Linked DNA regions of Homo sapiens: region 2 is linked to region 1. Evidence: fine-mapped expression QTL. A gene starts in region 1. The other region holds a variant in brackets. All regions are shown on one strand. Distances are from middle to middle. Region 1 holds the start of RNF8 (ring finger protein 8). Region 2 overlaps RNF8 (ring finger protein 8).

The links. PIP is the estimated chance that this variant, and not a neighbour inherited with it, causes the effect.
Region 2: its variant is fine-mapped to the expression of RNF8 in sun-exposed skin (GTEx, PIP above 0.99).

What each region holds. Positions count from the first base shown.
Region 1 is chr6:37,350,604-37,359,943 of GRCh38, reverse strand. RNF8 (ring finger protein 8) reads right to left here and starts at 5,961. Exons shown (of 8, transcript NM_003958.4): 1 at 5,669-5,961. The coding sequence starts at 5,779. RefSeq lists an enhancer at 5,659-5,708 and a silencer at 6,009-6,108.
Region 2 is chr6:37,386,871-37,395,178 of GRCh38, reverse strand. RNF8 (ring finger protein 8) reads right to left here. Exons shown (of 8, transcript NM_003958.4): 8 at 445-4,437. The coding sequence ends at 4,421. Among named protein-coding and RNA genes, the nearest start is that of RNF8, 37 kb to the right of the region's middle. The variant T/C (reference allele first, on the strand shown) is at 3,733.

The DNA.
Region 1 (9,340 bases):
TGGTTCTGTATTCCCAGTTACTTCAACTTAACTCCCAGGGGATGGGCTTGAGCCTTTGCCATTCTAATGAGTCTGTGAAGGGACTGCTGGTTTATCTTTATTCCTGGATGGCATATTAAGAAAAATAAACTTAATTTCTATTACACAGTCAAACGCAAGTGTTACTTTCCCAGTTCTAGATATTATCACTGGAGCATATAAATTGCATTAGCTTTCATAGCAGATCTAGTACACTGCCAGTGTATCCTCGAACTTAGGAATGATTAAATTTCTTGGTCTCCCCCTCCTCCAAGAAATGCTATCCTAAGTCCTGTCTCTTCTGCTCTATACTTGACTGGATGGAAAACCTTGGATTCAAGCGCAGGACCTTAGATTGATTCCTATTAAATTTCATCTTGCTAGTTCAGCCTATCAAACCAATTTGTCAAGACCTTTCTGAATTTTTAATCTGCCATCAGATCAGACATACTTAATATCTCTTCCACCAAATTTATGAGATGATGCCTTCTATACCTTCGTTCAAGACACAGAATGGGATGCAGCCAAAGGCAAAGTTTTCAGGAAAACCTAGTAAACATTAACCCACACCATCTGGATATACCTTCAGCCAGTTATAATTCAACCAAAAGTCTTTGCATTGGAGTACATATTCTCTGTCTTATCCACAAGAACAGCTTGAGAGCTTCCGGAAAAGGTTGAAAAGAAGCCCCAGTTCACATCTATCATACTTTCCTGTTGGACCAGTCTAGTTCATAACAACCCTGTGAAGGAAGGAAATGAAATTCTTCTGAGTTCCAGATCACAGAATTCCCTTATTCTTTTTTGTTTGTTAATTTTTTTTTGTTTTTTTGAGAGAGTCTTGCTTTATCACCCAGGCTGGAGTGCAGTGGCACGATCTTAGCTCACTGCAACCTCTGCCTCCCGGGTTCAAGCAATTCTCCTGCCTCAGCTTCCACGTAGCTGGGATTACAGGCACGCACCACCACACCCAACTAATTTTTGTATTTTTAGTAGAGACGGGGTTTCACCATGTTGGTCAGGCTGGTCTCGAACTCCTGATCTCAAGTGATCTGCCTGCCTCAGCCTCCCACAGTGCTGGGATTACAGGTGTGAGCCACCGCGCCCGGCTCCCTGCATATTCTTCTTAGTGCACAAACGACCTCTTTAATGTCCCATATCACAACCTTAACTGGGAACTTTAAACCAAAGTTAGCTAAAACTGCCCTCTTCTCTTCTCTTTAAAATCTTTCAGAATGCCTGTCCTCCTCAGTCCCTCAAAGACCACCACGACTCACTGACCTAATCTATTCCTCCCCACAAACTCTTATCTCAGTATTCACAATACTATCCAACCAACTACTCAACCCATAACCCAGAAGCCATCTTTGATTCATCTCTGTCCCTCATCCCCACATTGAAATCACTGGTAAATTATATGGGCTATAATTCAAATATGTCCTAAGTCTGTTCATTCCTATCTCTGCAGCCACAGCCTTAGTCCAAACCACCTGGCCTCCTACTGTTTCTGTTCTCACTCTAGCCCCCATAAGCTTTATAATAGTAACTGGAATAGAAATGTAAAAATTTTAAATCAGGTCATTTTCCTTCTTTCCTTAAAACTGTCCAATCATTCAAACTTCCTTCCATGGCCTATAAGACCCTGAATGTCCTGAGCCCTTCTACTCTTTAGTCTTAACTCATACCATAGTGCCAACACTAGCTGCTCCAGCCCCTCAAACTTTTTTGTTGTTGTTGTTCCTTAAGCCCATCTCCCCGAAGTGCCAGCCTACCTGAGGGTCTTTTCACTTAGCCCCTCTGCTAAGAACACTCTTCTCTCAGATCTTGCACAGGCTCCTTATCTTTCATGTTCCAGCTACTCATAAGCCTACTCTGATTACCTCTGTCTAAAGTTGGTTGTCTGCTTCCCATCATATTTCTTCAGTTATTAGGAAGTACTTATCACAGACCAAAATTATCTTGTTTATTTTACTTTTCCCCTCTGTCCCCGTAATAGAATATAAATTAGATAAGCAGGGACTTTATCTGTCTTGTTTACCACTGTGTTTCTATACCTGGCATAGTGTTCAGTTAAGTATTTGAGAATGAATGAAAGAATAAAGAGGTCTTGCATATGAGTCCTCAAGATTTTAGGGTGGGTGTTTTTAGGTCAGAAGTTAGAGACTGTATTACCATTGGAAAATATGGAGCAGCAGTTGGAACTCATACAGTCTCACTTGTTTCTCTTTAAAATGTTGTGGTGATCACTCCACCAACACTGAGCACAAAGTTTTTCAGTTCTTTCACACTCTGCCAGAATTATATTAATTATAGAAGTTCCTCTGAATACACATATCTGTTAAAAATGGAATGGCTAGGGATTTATCTGTCGTCCATATTCAGTAAAATTTCTATTTAGGTAGCTTTATCTCTAAGAGAGGAAGCATCTCATATTACATGCTAATACTTGAGGGGAGACAGCCAGACTGCCATTGTGAGTAGCCAGGGGAAAACAGTACCAAAACAGTAGAAGAGTGCCTTTTCCTGACATTGCCTCCAACAGACTCTGAACCCAGAAAAAGGAATCATTCTTTTACATCCTTCCCTGCACTGCCTGGTCTTAGAATTTACCTTGGTACTACTGATATTTCACCTATACTGTAGTTAAAGAGTGCAGTGAGGTTACCTGGAAATCTCAGGACCACTCAACATAACACTGAATTTCCCGTGGGAACTGACTGACGACCCATATGTGAGGGGTTGTTTTCATTTACAATAGTTTTGCAAGCCTTTGAGCTTACACACATTATTGATCTAAAAGATCATCCTGTCTTTGCCCACCTTCACTAAGACTATCTCTTTCCTCCTGGGCACAATTCCTACTGTTTCTCAAATAACAAGTAAATCTGGCCAGGTGTGGTGGCTCACACCTGTAATTCCAGCACTTTGGGAAGCCCAGGCGGGCGGATCACATGAGGCCAGGAGTTCGAGACCAGCCTGGCCAACATGGCGAAACCCCACCTCTATTGAAAACACAAAAAGTAACTGGGCATAGTGGTGCATATCTGTAATCCCAGCTACTTCGGAGGCTGAGACAGAAGAACCACTTGAACCAGGGAGGTGAAGGTGTGATCACACCACTGCACTCCAGCCTGGGTGACAGAAGGAGTACTCTGTCTCAAAACAAAACACCCCACAAAAAAGCCCCCAAACCAGTAAATATAACCATCCTTTCCCTTTTTTCCCTTGGGGCAGAAAACTTAATGAAAACTAAATACAAGAGAAGAAAAGGGGAGAGAAGGTTCTGTTGTTTTCCCCAAAGGCCTAGATACTTTATAGTACCTGAGAACTAGCTAATTTGCAATAAATCTCTACTTGTTTTTCCACCAAACTCTATGCATTGCTTTAACAAGCTTAAAGCCACTTAATTAGACAATTTACTACAGTGTTCCCATCAATGAAATGAAAGGAACCCTGTTTTATTATTTTATCCACAACATCTGAGACTAAGAACTGGAAAGGCAGGGAACTGACCTACCTTTGCTGTTATGTTATTAGCGTATCTTTTAAAATCTTGTGCAAAACAGCTTGTGCTATGATTTGGGGACCATAACAATAAGTACAACTTCTTCTCTTGCCTTTGATTCAGACTTCTTTTCAGGCTATGCTACGACCTGACCTTGCAGGCAGCCAAGCCTGGCAGGCTTCTCCTACACACAGGTCCCTGAAGCCAGCCACAGTCTTACCACTGAGTTTATATGGGTCCCTCCCCATGCAACTGGCCCCATAAAGAACTATCAAATGGTTTAGAATATGTCTAAGACTGCTTTATAGTCTTCTTGCCCTTTCTTCAGGTGCTTTAATTCGTCCTCCCCATCCCACCTGCCCAAGACTGCAGTACTGACAAGCTATTCAGAAGTCATAAATTAATCCACAACAATTGAATCTAAAGGAATAACACTTGCCCACTGAGTTATCTTATGAGGTTGTGTGTATGCAGGGATCAGATTAAGTAATGTATGTGAAATTAACTAATAGTTATGCACAAAAATAATTTATTTTTGTGTGTATTATTCAGGTTATTATTCAGGTGTTCGTGTTTTAATTTGTTAAACTTCCCACAAACATATGCTGTTGGAAAGGGCCAGGCAGGGAAAGATCAGTGCTCAAGCTAAAAGAATGAATGCTTAATGTGGACTTTTAGGCACTAATACCTGGATAGAAGAGGTATTTGGAGGCAGAGATGTTTTCTTGGTGTTCCTCAAACCACAGCATACAAGTAACCCTTTATAACACTCCCTAATCTAGCAATTAAATTTGTGCCTAGACATGAATTCCTCCTCTGACTTGAAGAACTACTGCTCTGGGAAGGAACTAAATAATCCAAATCTTAGCACTTGATCATACAGCCCATATGGATGTTCTTTATACGATGACTGCTTCATTGTATAAATCCTCTCTCCCCACTCAAGCCTTAAACTCTTCGAGCGCAGAAATTTTATTTGTCCTCATTGTACACCAAACAATGTTAAATACTCAGTAAATACCTGGCAGACTGAATTGAGGCAGTACGGCTTATAGGAAAAATCTACCTGAACACACATGAGACTCAAAATACTTCTTGAATTTACATCATGACCAACCATCCACTTTTACTGCAAAGAGAACTTTTCATACAGATTATTTCCAAAACCCAAATGGTTCCCAGTCATCACAAGCTTGTCCCTGACCCAGTTCTCCTTCTCAACCTGATTGCAATCTAACTCCCTCCTCCCTTCCCTCGTCTTTTCAAGATGCACCACGCTGGTGCATCTTGAACCGTGCCAGGAACGGTACCTCATCTTTCCCCTTAAAATATTTTTCATTTGCAACTGCATTAATAAAGACGACAGGCAGCCTCTGGAGAGAACTCTGAATACCTGCCCGACCCACCTCAGGGAGTGCCACTCGGCCGTACCGAGCCTCACAGGAGAAATGTGGCCCAGCCCAAGCCGCCCATGTTCCTCAGAGTTGGGAAGGAGGAAGACATTTCTACGTGAAAGTTTGATTGCTTTAAGGGACAAAACCCAAAATTTGCAATCGTTTTCAAAACAAACTCGAGAAAGTTCAGGCGCCGGGCCCTGCCTCGGCTTCCCGGCAGCTCGCGGCCCCCGCCACCGTTCCCCGACCTGGCACCGCGGGGCTCTGTGCGCCCTAAACGGGATCTGGCCAGCCCCCGCCCTCCCCTCCTCGACACCCCCGCATCTCCTCACGTTCCCTGCGCGTCCCTCTCCTCCCAGTCCCCGGCCCAGCTACCCGCTGACCCAGGCCTCTCTGGACGGGGCCCGCTTCTCGCCCCACAGGCCGCGGGTCAGGGCCTCCGTCCTCGCCCCAACCCTTGTGGCCCCCCCGGGCTCCCCAGAGCCGAACTCTCTTTTCTTCCTTTCTCCCACTCGGCCCCTATTTCTCCCCCAAACACCTCCCACCGCAGACCCTTCAGCCGCTCGCGCCAGAACCGCTTTCTCCCTTCTCTCCCCAGGAATCCACCCCCCCCACAGACACTTCGCTCCTCTTCCTGATGCCCGCCTCCTCTCTGCCATTCATTCAGCCCAGCAAGACACCTTCCTCCCTCCCCGGAGCCCCGCTCCCTCCAGCCCCTGCCCTCCGCTCCACAGGACCCCTTCCCCCGTACCTCGCACCCATCTTCCAGCAGCAGCCACCCGGCGCTCATCCCCACCCGCCGCAGGCACCAGCTCCGGCCACCGGCGCGGTCTCCTGTGACGAAGAAGCCGGGCTCCCCCATCGCCTACTCGACCCCGGGGGCGGTCAGCACCGAGCGAGACCCTGACCTAGGTTCTGGCTGCCTCTGTGCATCCCCTCAGCTTCCATATCTAAATAACAGACAGAAGCAATCGCCACACGCTCGCGATCGCTGCGAAAGCAGGCTCCGCTCGCCCGCCCTCGGCCAGGAAGCAGGAGCACTACGCCTGCGCAAGAGGACGGCGGCCGCCCTGGAGCAAAGAGGGTGGGTTGGGAGCCAATCCGGCCCTGGGCGGGGCGGGCGCGATTCGAGAGGTCTCCTCGCCTCACACCTTCCCTCGCCGCCTCCAGAACCATCACCCCAGTCCTAGCCGCCCCAGACTGGAACCTCTTCTCACCTTTCCTCTTTTTAAAAAAGTCATGTGAAACTATAGCCCACTTTTAAACAACTTTAAACTTTCCATCGGATTTAAGTCTGCCTAGTCTGTTGCTAAATAGTCTCTATTTTGCACGACCTACTTATATTACCGAAGTAAAAAATAAATTACACTAGGCAAATCTACAAAGACAAAGAGCACAGTTACCTGGGGCGAGGTGTGGGAGCGGGTATTGAATGCAGATGGGCTTGAAAAAATTGGAGGAAAGCGGTAATAGAAATGTTCTAAAAGTGGATTGTGGTGACAATTGTACAACTGTATAAGTTTATTAAAAAGTCATGGAAGTGTGGCCGGACGCAGTGGCTCACGCCTGTAATCCCAGCACTTTGGGAGGTCGAGACGCGCGGATCACTTGAGTTCAGGAGTTGTGACCAACCTGGCCACATGGGGAGACACCGTATCTACAAAAAAAAAAAAAAAAAAAGGAGGAAGGGAGGGAGAGAAAGGAAAAAAGAAAAAAAAGAAAAATTAGCTAGGTGTGGTGGTGCACACCTGTAGTCCGGCTACTTGGGAGGCTGAGGTGGGAGGATCACCTGACCCCGGGAGGCAGAGGTTGCAGTGAGCCGACATGGCGCCACTGCATCCCAGCCTGGGCGACAGAGTGAGACCCTGTAAAGTGAAGAAAGTGTAAACTTCCAGTGGGTGAATTTTATGGCATGTAAATTATACTCAATAAAGCTGTTAATTTTATTATTATTATTACTGATTACAGACAGGGTCTCGCCCTGTCACCCAGGCTGGAGTGCAGCCTGGAGTGGTGCGATCTCAGCTCACTGCAACCTCCGCCTCCCGGGTTCAAGAGATTCTCCTGCCTCAGCCTCCAGAGTAGCTGGGATTACAGGCACGCGCCACCACGCCCGGCTAATTTTTATATTTTTTGGTAGATACCGGGTTTCGCCGTGTCTCCTGGATTCAAGTGATCCAACCGCCTCAGCCTCCCAAAGTGCTGAGATTACAAGCATGAGCCCCCGAGCCCGGCCAATTAAAAAATTGTTTTTAAACTCAGCCTCTCCTTTGGATTTTCCATATAGTGTGATAGCTGCTGCCTGCAGTGAGTACATCCAATGGTTGAGCCCCTTTTGTCTTTTCAGTTTTCCAACACCCAGTTAACAATTTCTTTCTTCTTTCTTTCCTTCCTTCCTTCTCTTTCTTTCTTTTCTTTTTTCTTTCTCTTTTCTTCTTTCTCTCTCTTTCTTTCTCTCCTTCCTTCCTTCCTTCCTCCCTTCTTCCTCTCTTTTTTTTTTTTTTTTGCACAAGGGGAAAGAAGGAAAACAATTTTCCTAAATAAAATTCTGTCAAAAAACCAGCCGGGCTGGGCATGGTGGCTCATGCCTGTAATCTCAGCACTTTTGAGAGGCCGAGGCAGGCGGATCACCTAAGGTTGGGAGTTCAAGACCAGCCTGACCAACATGGAGAAACACCGTCTCTACTAAAAATACAAAGTTAGCCCAGCGTGGTGGCGTGTGCCTGTAATCCCAGCCACTCAGGAGGCTGAGCCAGGAGACTCGCTTGAACCCAGGAGGCAGAGGTGGCGGTGAGCCGAGATCTCGCCATTGCACTCCAGCCTGGACAACAAGAGTGAAACTCCATCAAAACAACAACAACAAAAAAAACAAAAACAAAAACAAAAAACACACACACAGCCAAGTGTGGCGGCTCACGCCTGTAATCCCAGCACTTTGGGAGGCCGAGGCAGGTGGATCACCTGAGGTCAGGGGTTCCAGACCAGCCTGGCCAACATGGTGAAACCCTGTCTCTAGTAAAAATACAAAAATGATCTGGGCATGGTGGTGAGCACCTGTAATCCCAGCTACCAGGGAGGCTGAGGTGGGAGGATCCCTTGAGCCTGGGAGGCAGAAGTTGCAGTGAGCTGAGATCACACCACTGTACTCTAGCCTGGGTGACTGAGCAACACTCTGTCTCAAAAACAAATACACAAACAAAACAACAAGAAAAGAAAATACATACACTAAATGAATTACACAGTGTACAATAGTAAATAGCTAACATTTACTGAGTGCTAAGTGCCAGGTACTAGGCGAAGCACCCTACATACTTTATTTGTCCTTTGCAAACAGAAAGAAAAAAGAAAAATTAGCCAGTTATTAGTGGTTACAATTATAATCCCTATGTTAGAGATGATGAGAAAAGAGGCACAGAGAGGTTTTGGTAATCTTCCCAAAGTAACAAATGAAATGGCAGAGTAGGATGTCAATTCAAGTCTGTTTCAAAAGCCTAGTTTCCTAACCATGGGTGCAATCCCAACCTGGAACATTTTATCTGTGTTGTGCAGTCAGATCAAGAAATGCAGGCCCTGACATCACAGAGGGCCAGGAACTTTGGTGAAAGTCATAGCTGCACTCATGGAGATGCTTCCCTAAGCTGTGCATAGGTATCTGTTGGTGCCCCCACCCCACCTTAGCATTCTACCCCAGGAACAGCAAGCACACCTAGAAGCCACCCTGACATTTAGTCTGTGTGTCTCCTTAGGCTCCTCTTGGCTGTGATAGATTCTCAGACTTTCCTTGTTTTTGATGACCTCGACAATTTGAGGAGTACCAGACAGATATTTTGTAGAATGTCCCTCAACTGGGATTTGTCTGATGTTTTTCTCATGATTAGACTGGGGTTATGGATTTGGGGATGGAAGACCACATAGGTAAAGTGTCATTCTCATGGCATCATATCCAGGGTACGTGTTATCAACATGAACTATCATTGTTGGTGTTCATCTCGATCACCTGGCATTTCTTATTTCTTGATATGACAGTACCACACAGATAAAACGTTCCAGGTTGGGATTGCAACCATGGTTAGGAAATTAGGCTTTGGAAATCTAGGTAGTGTTTGTCAGGTTTCTCCACTGTAAACTTACTTTTTTTTTTGAGACAGAGTTTCACTCTTGTTGCCCAGGCTGGAGTGCAATGGCTCAATCTCGACACACTGCAACCTCCGCCTCCTGGGTTCAAGCGATTCTCCTGCCTCAACCTCCCGAGTAGCTGGGATTACAGGCATGAGCCACCACGCCCGGCTTATTTTGTATTTTTAGTAGAGACGGGGTTTCACCATGTTGGCCAGGCTGGTCTTGAACTCCTGACCTCAGATGATCTGCCCACCTTGGCCTCCCAAAGTGCTGGGATTACAGGCGTGAACCACTGTGCCAGGCC
Region 2 (8,308 bases), 36 kb before region 1:
GCTAAAAGGCCAAACTTGCCCTGAAACCTGCCACAGAGATGCCCTTGAAGGCCCCTGGGTAGAGCTGGGTAGAGGCCCAGGACAGCTTGATCTCTAAGGAACTGGTCCCTACATCCTGAGGGCCGGTGGGTGGTGGTAAAAGCAGCAGGCTGCAAAGGCTTGGGCTACCCAGGTCCTAGAGATGTGAAACGCCAGTTCTGGATCTTGGGATGGGCCAGCGTAGCCTGCTGGATCTCCTGCGTGGAGGTTGAGGAATGTGAGGAAACACCCAACATTGCTACCTCAGTAGGTAGCAGTGCGTAACCCCCTCCCACAGCATCTCATAAAACCTTTGAAACGCTTTTGACACCTTTCTAGAACATCAGCTCACAATGGTTGTGTTTTGCTCATTGCCATACCAAACACCTAGAGCAGTGCCTAGTAAGAAAATGGGCATTTGATAACTATTGCTGAATTGAATTTATTGAATACATGCAGAGTACAAACGGCCCCAAATCACAGCAGGTTGAAGTATTCACAGAGCCTGAAGGAAAGTGGACAGCAGAGATAGTGGCTCTGGAAATTGGATGAGGTGGGCATCTGGAATGTAGTAAAGCAGCAGCAAGCAGGAGATACTGCTTGGCGACTAGATGAGCTCAGGTAGCCCATCACTGGTACATTGTTTGGGGATGCTGTAGACAAAGGAATGACAGCATTGGAGTATTTATTGAATGCCTATCACAGGCTGAGCCCTTTCCTAGGATTCATATGCTTTTCTCAATGGAAGAATCAAGAAGATAGTTCATTATTTCTCCTTAATACAAGGCCCCATCGTCTTCCCAAGAACCCCACACTCCTACTGCCTCAACTCCCATTTGTTGGAGAAGCTGAAAAAGCTGACCAGGTAGGAAGTTTCTTTCTCTGAATGAAGCTAACTAGGGTTCAGAACAAGCCCTTGACCTATTGTGACCAATGGCAGATCCTGTTCCAATCAGGCCCCACACCTATGAACAAGTCTGTATCTCAGAGCAAGAGACAGATAACAATTCCAGGATTCTCCTGATCTTAGATTAGGACCACAATACAAAGTAGACATTCCTTCTTACTTTCTATGTCAAATTTAGCTAATCACTGGATTCATCAGAAGCCTAGGGGGTTCAGTGTCGAGATAAACATACCTAGGACACCCCATGTTTCTGGGTTATCCTTAGATACGATGAGGTGGAGAGATTCCAGTCACAGAGAGAGGCTGTAAAGAGCAAGCAGGCAGTTGGAGAGAGCTACCAATCCCAGACACTCCAGCAGTTATGGTGACTGCCTGGATGGTCACTCACAGAGGAGGAAAAAGTAGTGAGAGAACTGGAGACAAGGGGGAAATGCAGGTCTTTCTGTACAACAGCAGCTTCCAATCAGAGAAACAGATGATGGGTATCCAGCTATGCAATCCACAAAGGACAAAGTCCCCTGCTTTGGCACAGTCTGATTGTTGGGATGAAACATGCCTAGAGGTAGAGTGAGCCCTTTCTAGGTTAACATAACCAGATATGGGACACCTGCCATTCACTGCAAAGTGCTTCATATAGCTGGCTGCATTCATCTGCTTAATAAAACCAGATAATGAAACAAACCCCCTTTTCCAGTTCCCCAGAGCCCTGCTGTAAAGAAGGTGCCTTTAATTAGAGTCAGACTGCACAGCACTGGGGCTCAGCTGTACTATAGTTTGATGCTGCAAGGCAGAAAAGTTACCGTGTATTTTCTAGGCAAGTAAAATGCAGATGATGTTTAATATCAGATATCTCTCCAAGGAAAGAACATTCTGTAGCTCAGACAAATAATGCAAGTTTGGGTTAATTTTTGGTTTGTCTTTTAAACATAGTACATTCAGGCTTTTGTTTGTGATCAGGGCAATAATGACAGATATAATTACTTAGAGATGAAGAAACCAAAACCAAGACACAAGGAGGCTGAGTAACTTGCCCAAGGCTCACACAGTTACTAACAGCAGGGCCAAGATTCAAACTCCGCTAGTCTGGCTTTTAATGTTGTTGTATTGATTTATTACTCTTTTTAGTCTGTCTTTAAGAGCTCACTTTCCTAGATGTTGTGGAACACTTGAGAGGGATGTGGTACTCTGAAAGGAGGGGCTGCAAATCACTCTATGTCCAGCAGCTGTGGGATGGAATGGTCAGTCTGTGAGGTCAGTCTCTGTACATAGTCTTCAGGCTCAAGTCAAGATGTCTCTTCTTGGCCAGGTGCAATGGCTCATGCCTGTAATCTCAGCACTTTGGGAGGCCAAGGTGGTAGGATTGCTTTAGCCCAGAATTTCAAGACCAGCCTAGGCAACATAGTCTCTATTAAAAAATAATAAAATAATTTTTAAAAAGGTATTTCTTTTTAAAATATCTTCTCTCTAAAGATATATGTACAAGGGTGTTAACTGCAGCATTGTTTTAAGAGTAAAAAGGTTTGAACCAACCTAGATTTCTATCAAAAGTAAGCCAGAAAAGTAAATGATGGTGCAAATACACAATGAAAAAACAGGCAGCTGTAATAAAGAAAGGAAACTATGTACTGACATGGAACTGTTGCCAACATATATCTGAAAAAAGCAAGGTTCAGAATAGCGTACAGTTTACCATTTGTGCAAAGCAAGGAAAAAGACCACATGTGTTTTTGCTTGTATAGACAGAGATCTCTGGAAGAATATACAAGCAACTGTAATACTTGTTGCCTCTGAGTGGGAAGTAGTCGCTGTGGGGAAAGGGTGAGAGGCATTTCATTCTACGCCATTTTGTACCTTTAATTTCAAACTATGTGAACATATTGCCTACTCAAAAAGTGTATGTCTGTACTCTCTTAAAAATGAATTACAATATGTAAACTAAACACAGAACATATAAAAATTGACATATACCCATGCAATCTATAAACAAAACACATGTATGGGGAAACAAGAAGTTATTAAATCAAGGTGGTAACAATCTTTTCCTTTTGTTCTCTATTTTTCCAGAATTCTTATGATGTGGTTATAGTAAGTACTTTTAAAGCATTTTTTCCACATTTAACTTACTTCCTCCATGACTCTACCAGTATTTTGATCAGTAATCATGGGCAGAAGAATGGAAATGAAGACTAAGGACTCCAGAATCCCAAAATTCACAGTATATTCAACAAAGAAAAAATCCCTACCATCCTTAAAAAGTTGGCAATCAATAGTTTCCAACCCTTTATGAAAATACATGGGGTATAGGCTGGGCGTGGTGGCTCACGCCTGTAATCCCAGCATTTTAGAGGCCTAGGCAGGTGGATCACTTAAGGTCAGGAATTTGAGACCAGCCTGGCCAACATGGTGAAACCCTGTCTCTACAGAAAAACAAAAATTAGCTGGGTGTGATGGCATATGCCTGTAGTCCCAGCTACTTGGGAGGTTGAGGTGGGAGGATGGCTTGAGTCTGGGAGGTGGAGGTTGCAGTGAGCTGAGATTGCACTACTGTACTCCAGCTTGGGCAACAGAGTCAGATCTTGTTTCAAAAATTAAAATTAAAATTAAAAATAAAGGAGAGGTGGAGAAAAGAGAGAAAACTTCTAATGTAAAAGAAAAATAAAGAAAAAAGCACATCAAGTTGTCATAAAATCATTGCCTGTGTGTTCATGACGTCAGATAAAATAGATTTGGAAACATTCAAATGCCAGCTGAAGGAAAGGAGTTTCTCCCACCCCTGAAACAAGGTAAACAGTGACCCACCTCTGTAA[T/C]AAAAAGGAAACACGACAGTCAGGAGGTTAACAGAGCTCATCTGTTGCCACGATCTGCAGCTTGGCCTCTTAGGCTGACATTCACTTGAAGTCTATCATCTGATACAGTCACTTTCTTGGTTGTAATCTATGAGCTGCTGGTGTTTACTTGTGAGACTGTCTGGGAGCAGGAAGGGAAGGAAGGTAAATACACCAAAGCCCAGCTGAGCAACTGACAGGTTTTACATTTTATTTCCAGGAAATGAGATAGTATTTTCACAAAGAAGAGGTAAGCCATCCTCTCAAAATAGACACTGCCTTCAGAGGCAGCCATGGGGTACACCCAACCTATCCAAAACAACTGTCAACGGAGGTGTTTCCGAGGTATCAAAACAGTAACAACAACAACAAATTAAAAAAAAACAGAAGAGAACTCAAATAACTCTTTCGACATGTAGTGAGGCAGAGTCTACGAAGTACCCTGAAGCAGTTGGGTGCCGTGAATCCTGGTGGTGCTTCAGCCAATGATGGCAGCAGGGCTGGCCACCGTGGAAGGCAAGTGACTGAGGGCTTCCTAACTCAAGTCTCTGTCCCACAAGACTTCTCAGTTGACCTTCAGAGCAGCGGAGTCACGGCTAGAGAGAATCCTCCAGACCATCTCAGGCTCGCACTACCTGGCAGTCTTTCAAATGCCCTTAGAGCACGGTCTTCAGAACAATCTCTTTGCTTTGGAGAAAAAGAAGAGAAATAAATAAATGAGGAGCCTGTATTTCCCTTCCGTGGACTCCCTGCTTCCAGCCTCGCCACCCTGTCTCTTCCTCACACAGCAGCCATAGCGAACTGAGAAAACAGAAGTCAGATCATGTCACTCTCTGCTCAAAGCCCACTCCTCATTCCTCTCACAGTGAGTTAAAGTCAAAGTCCTTTCAAAGGCCTACAAGGCCCTACAAAATCTGCGTCTTGCTCAAGCTTCCTCTCCTACCCACTCCCCAGCGCTCACTCCACTCCCCAGCACTAGCCTCCTTGCTGCCCCTCCCACATACCAGCATGCTCCCCCTTACCATTCCCTCTTTCCCTACATGGCAGCATGGCCACCTCCTTCAGAGCTTCCCTCAAATAGTTCCTGCTCAGAGGTGCCTTCCTTGATTACCCTATCAAGAATTGCCAAGGCTTTCACCATCACCCCTTCTCCCCTTCTTGCTTGATTTTTCTCCATAGCATTAATTACATCTAACTTAGATTTTCACTTTTTACATTCTCAGCATCTAGAACAGTGCCTAGCACAAATCTGGCCCTCAATATATCTGTTAAAGATGTTAAAGAAAGGAATGAATTATATACAGGAATAGGCAGGGAGAGGCGGGAATTCTTCCTGTGTTCAGAGAGGGAGGGGACAAGAAAGGCTGTTTACTTACTAGCCTCCAGGCTTTTCCAATAGTCCGCTTCCTTGTGGGAATCCTGGCCTATGCCAAAGGCACAATAAAGTCACCAACCAAATTGTCCCCTTTCTCTGAGACTGAATTCTGGAATGCTTTGTTAGGGGGATTGAAAGGACTACAGAAGTTATTCGTCTCCCACTTCTGGGTAGCCTTTGAGGTGGTGGGCCTTGGGGCTGGGCATGCCCTCAGCCTTGGAGAGAGAGAACCAAGTAGGGTTCCCTCCCTCTTAGCTAACAGCCTCAACTATTAGCTCACAGAAGAATACAGAAGCCACAAGAAAGAAATTCTCTGGACACCCCTCAAGCAAACTTCCTTGCCCCACCCCCCCACGATACTCTTCTTTCTATAAAACAAAGAATGCACACTTCTCCTCTTAAAGACTAATTGCTTTCTGAGCTCTGTACTCCCTGTCTTCCCCTGCTTTCCAACGAGTCATGCCCTACCTGCTATCTTGGCTTTCCAGCATGCCCTTCTGTACAGGCTCCTTTCAATCTGCAATGGAACATGCTCAAATCTCGTCTTTAAAAAACAACAAAAACCCCATTTCACCCTACTTCCTCCTCCAAATACAGCCTTCTTTTGGTGGTGGTCCTCCCCATCTTAGTCACAGCCAAATTTTGTGAAGAAGTTATCTATTCTTTCTGTACTTCCTCACCTCATACTCACTCCCCAATCACTGTAAACTGACTTCTGACTCCACCATCCCCCACAACTTATACTAGATAAAGTCACCGATATCCCACATGCCTGCATACTCAATGGGCAATTTTTCATCCTTATCTTGTTTAATGTCTCAGCAGCATTTCAAACGCTGACTTCTCACTTTATAACTCTTCATAAACACATATTTACTGAAGAGCTACCATGTGCCAAACACTCTTCAATGCCCTGAAAATACTACAAGGAGAAAGATAAAATTCCTGCCCTCAAGGAGTTCGGAAATCTAGAGGCAAGAGTACACTAACAAATATTATTTCAATCTGGTAAATGCTTTCAAAGAAATATAGGGCAATGTAATGAGGGGGATCTACCCTAGACAAGAGTGTGGCCAGGAAGGCTCAAAGGACACCATGTAATGTCTTTTTTTTTTTTTAAAGAGATAGGGTCTGGCTCTTTTGCCCAGGCTGGAGTACAGTGGCACAGTCACAGCTTACTGGAGACTTAAACTCCTGGGTTCAAGGGATGCTCCAGCCTCAGCCTCCTGAGTAGGTGGGATCACAGGCATATGCCATCATGCCTAATTTTTTTTTTTTTTGAGATGGGGGTCTCACTATGTTGCCCAGGCTGGTCTTGAACTCCTGGCTTCAAGTGATCCTCTCACCTCAGCCTCCTAAGTAGCTGTGAGGACAGGCATGTGCCAGCTCTGCCTGCCCCACATCCCTGCCCCACATCCCTCTTTTTCCATCTCTCTCTTTGGCCATTCATCAGTCTGCCCTGCAGGCCCCTCTTCTACTACTCATCCCCTAATGTTGGTGTTTCTCATGGCTAAGAACTTGCCCTTTGGCTCTTAATACCACAGAGACGGTAACAGTGGTTCATCCACTTCCATGGCTCATGATCCCCAAACCTAGAATCTCAACTTGGCCTGTCCTTCAGGCTCCAGATCCACACATTCAAATAACCACTGAACAGCTCCATTGATGTCCTCAGGTGCCTTAAACTTTCCAGTTGAAAACTAAATTTGTCTGCTCCAACTACTCCTATTTTAGTAAATGCATCATCATCAACTCAGGTGCCCCAATAGAAAGAAACCTAGACATGATCTGAGCTCCCTTGCAGTCCCCACAGCACATCAGTCCCACAGACCTGTGGATTCTACCTCCTTAACTACCTCTTGAATCTATCCACTCTGGCCATCCCTGCTGCTACTTCTCTAACCTAGCCACCATCATCACTGGCCATGATTACTGCCTTTATTCTTGTTCCCAGCACCATGTCGTCTCTTCACTACAGCCAGACTAACCTATCCAGAAAAACACAAACATCAACAGTCAGATCTCCACTTCATATCTTCTGTTTCCCCCTGCCCCTAGACTAACTCTGCAACATGTCTGTAACACCCTGCATGACCCAGTCCTGCCAACTTTTCCAGGCTGAATGCTCAATATTCTCTCTAGCACTCTGTACTTCTCTCAGCCCCTAAAAACCCCTTGCTTTTGCTTCTTGTCCTTTCACCTAAAATACACTCCATGTCCTTCACTGACTCAGGGAAGCCTTTCCTTGACTTAGCACCCTTTATTTCTCATATTGTAGGACTTTACTATAAGGAACCTAGGGCCTGCACTTAGAGCAAAAGTTCCATGAGGGGAGAGACTGCACATGCCCTCTTTGCTTTTATCCCCAAGCACTTAGCATTTAGTAGGTGCTAAGAAAAAGGAAAGACCCAGGACTGGGCGTGGTGGCGCATGCCTATAACCCCAGCGCTGTGGGAAGCTGAGGTGGGCTGATCCTATGAGCCCAGGAGTTCAAGACCAGCCCAGGCAACATAATGAAACCCCATCTCTACAGAAAATACAAAAAATTAGCCAGGCATGGTGGCGCACGCCTGTAGCCCCAGCTACTAGGGAGGCTGAGATGGGAGGATGCTTGAGCCCAGGAGGCGGAGGTTTGCAGTGAGCTGAGATCATGCCACTGCACTCAGCCTGGGTGACAGAAAAAAAGGAAAGACCCAGAAGAAAGGAAGCAAGTAAGAGATATTTCTTTGGGGTTGGTTCTGGCTCAAGTTTAATGAGACAAGTGTAAAAGCAGTCCAAACTCTCCAGGATACAGAAAGTAACTGAAGTAGAAGCCCTAGCCAGGAAAAGGAGCATGTCTAGTTATATCAGATTTCTTAAGAACCATAGCAGTAGGCAGTTGGACAGAATATATATCCAGCTGATAAGGTATAATCAGCCATTCTCTATGATTAGTTCATAGAATATCAACTTATTTGAGCTTGCTCTAAAAATACTCAGTGTTCATCTAGGGTTAACCAAGAAACTCAAAGAAAAGCTGCTTTGGTTAATGACGCTACTCTATATTTGCACAGGTAGTCTCCTACAATAGACATTCCTGGAAGTAGGTATGAAAAATGATAAAATTACACGTTAGGAGGGAAAGAGGATCCATTTTTTAGAGGGCCAAAATAACTGTGTTATCACTAAAAATCAAAAAAGGGC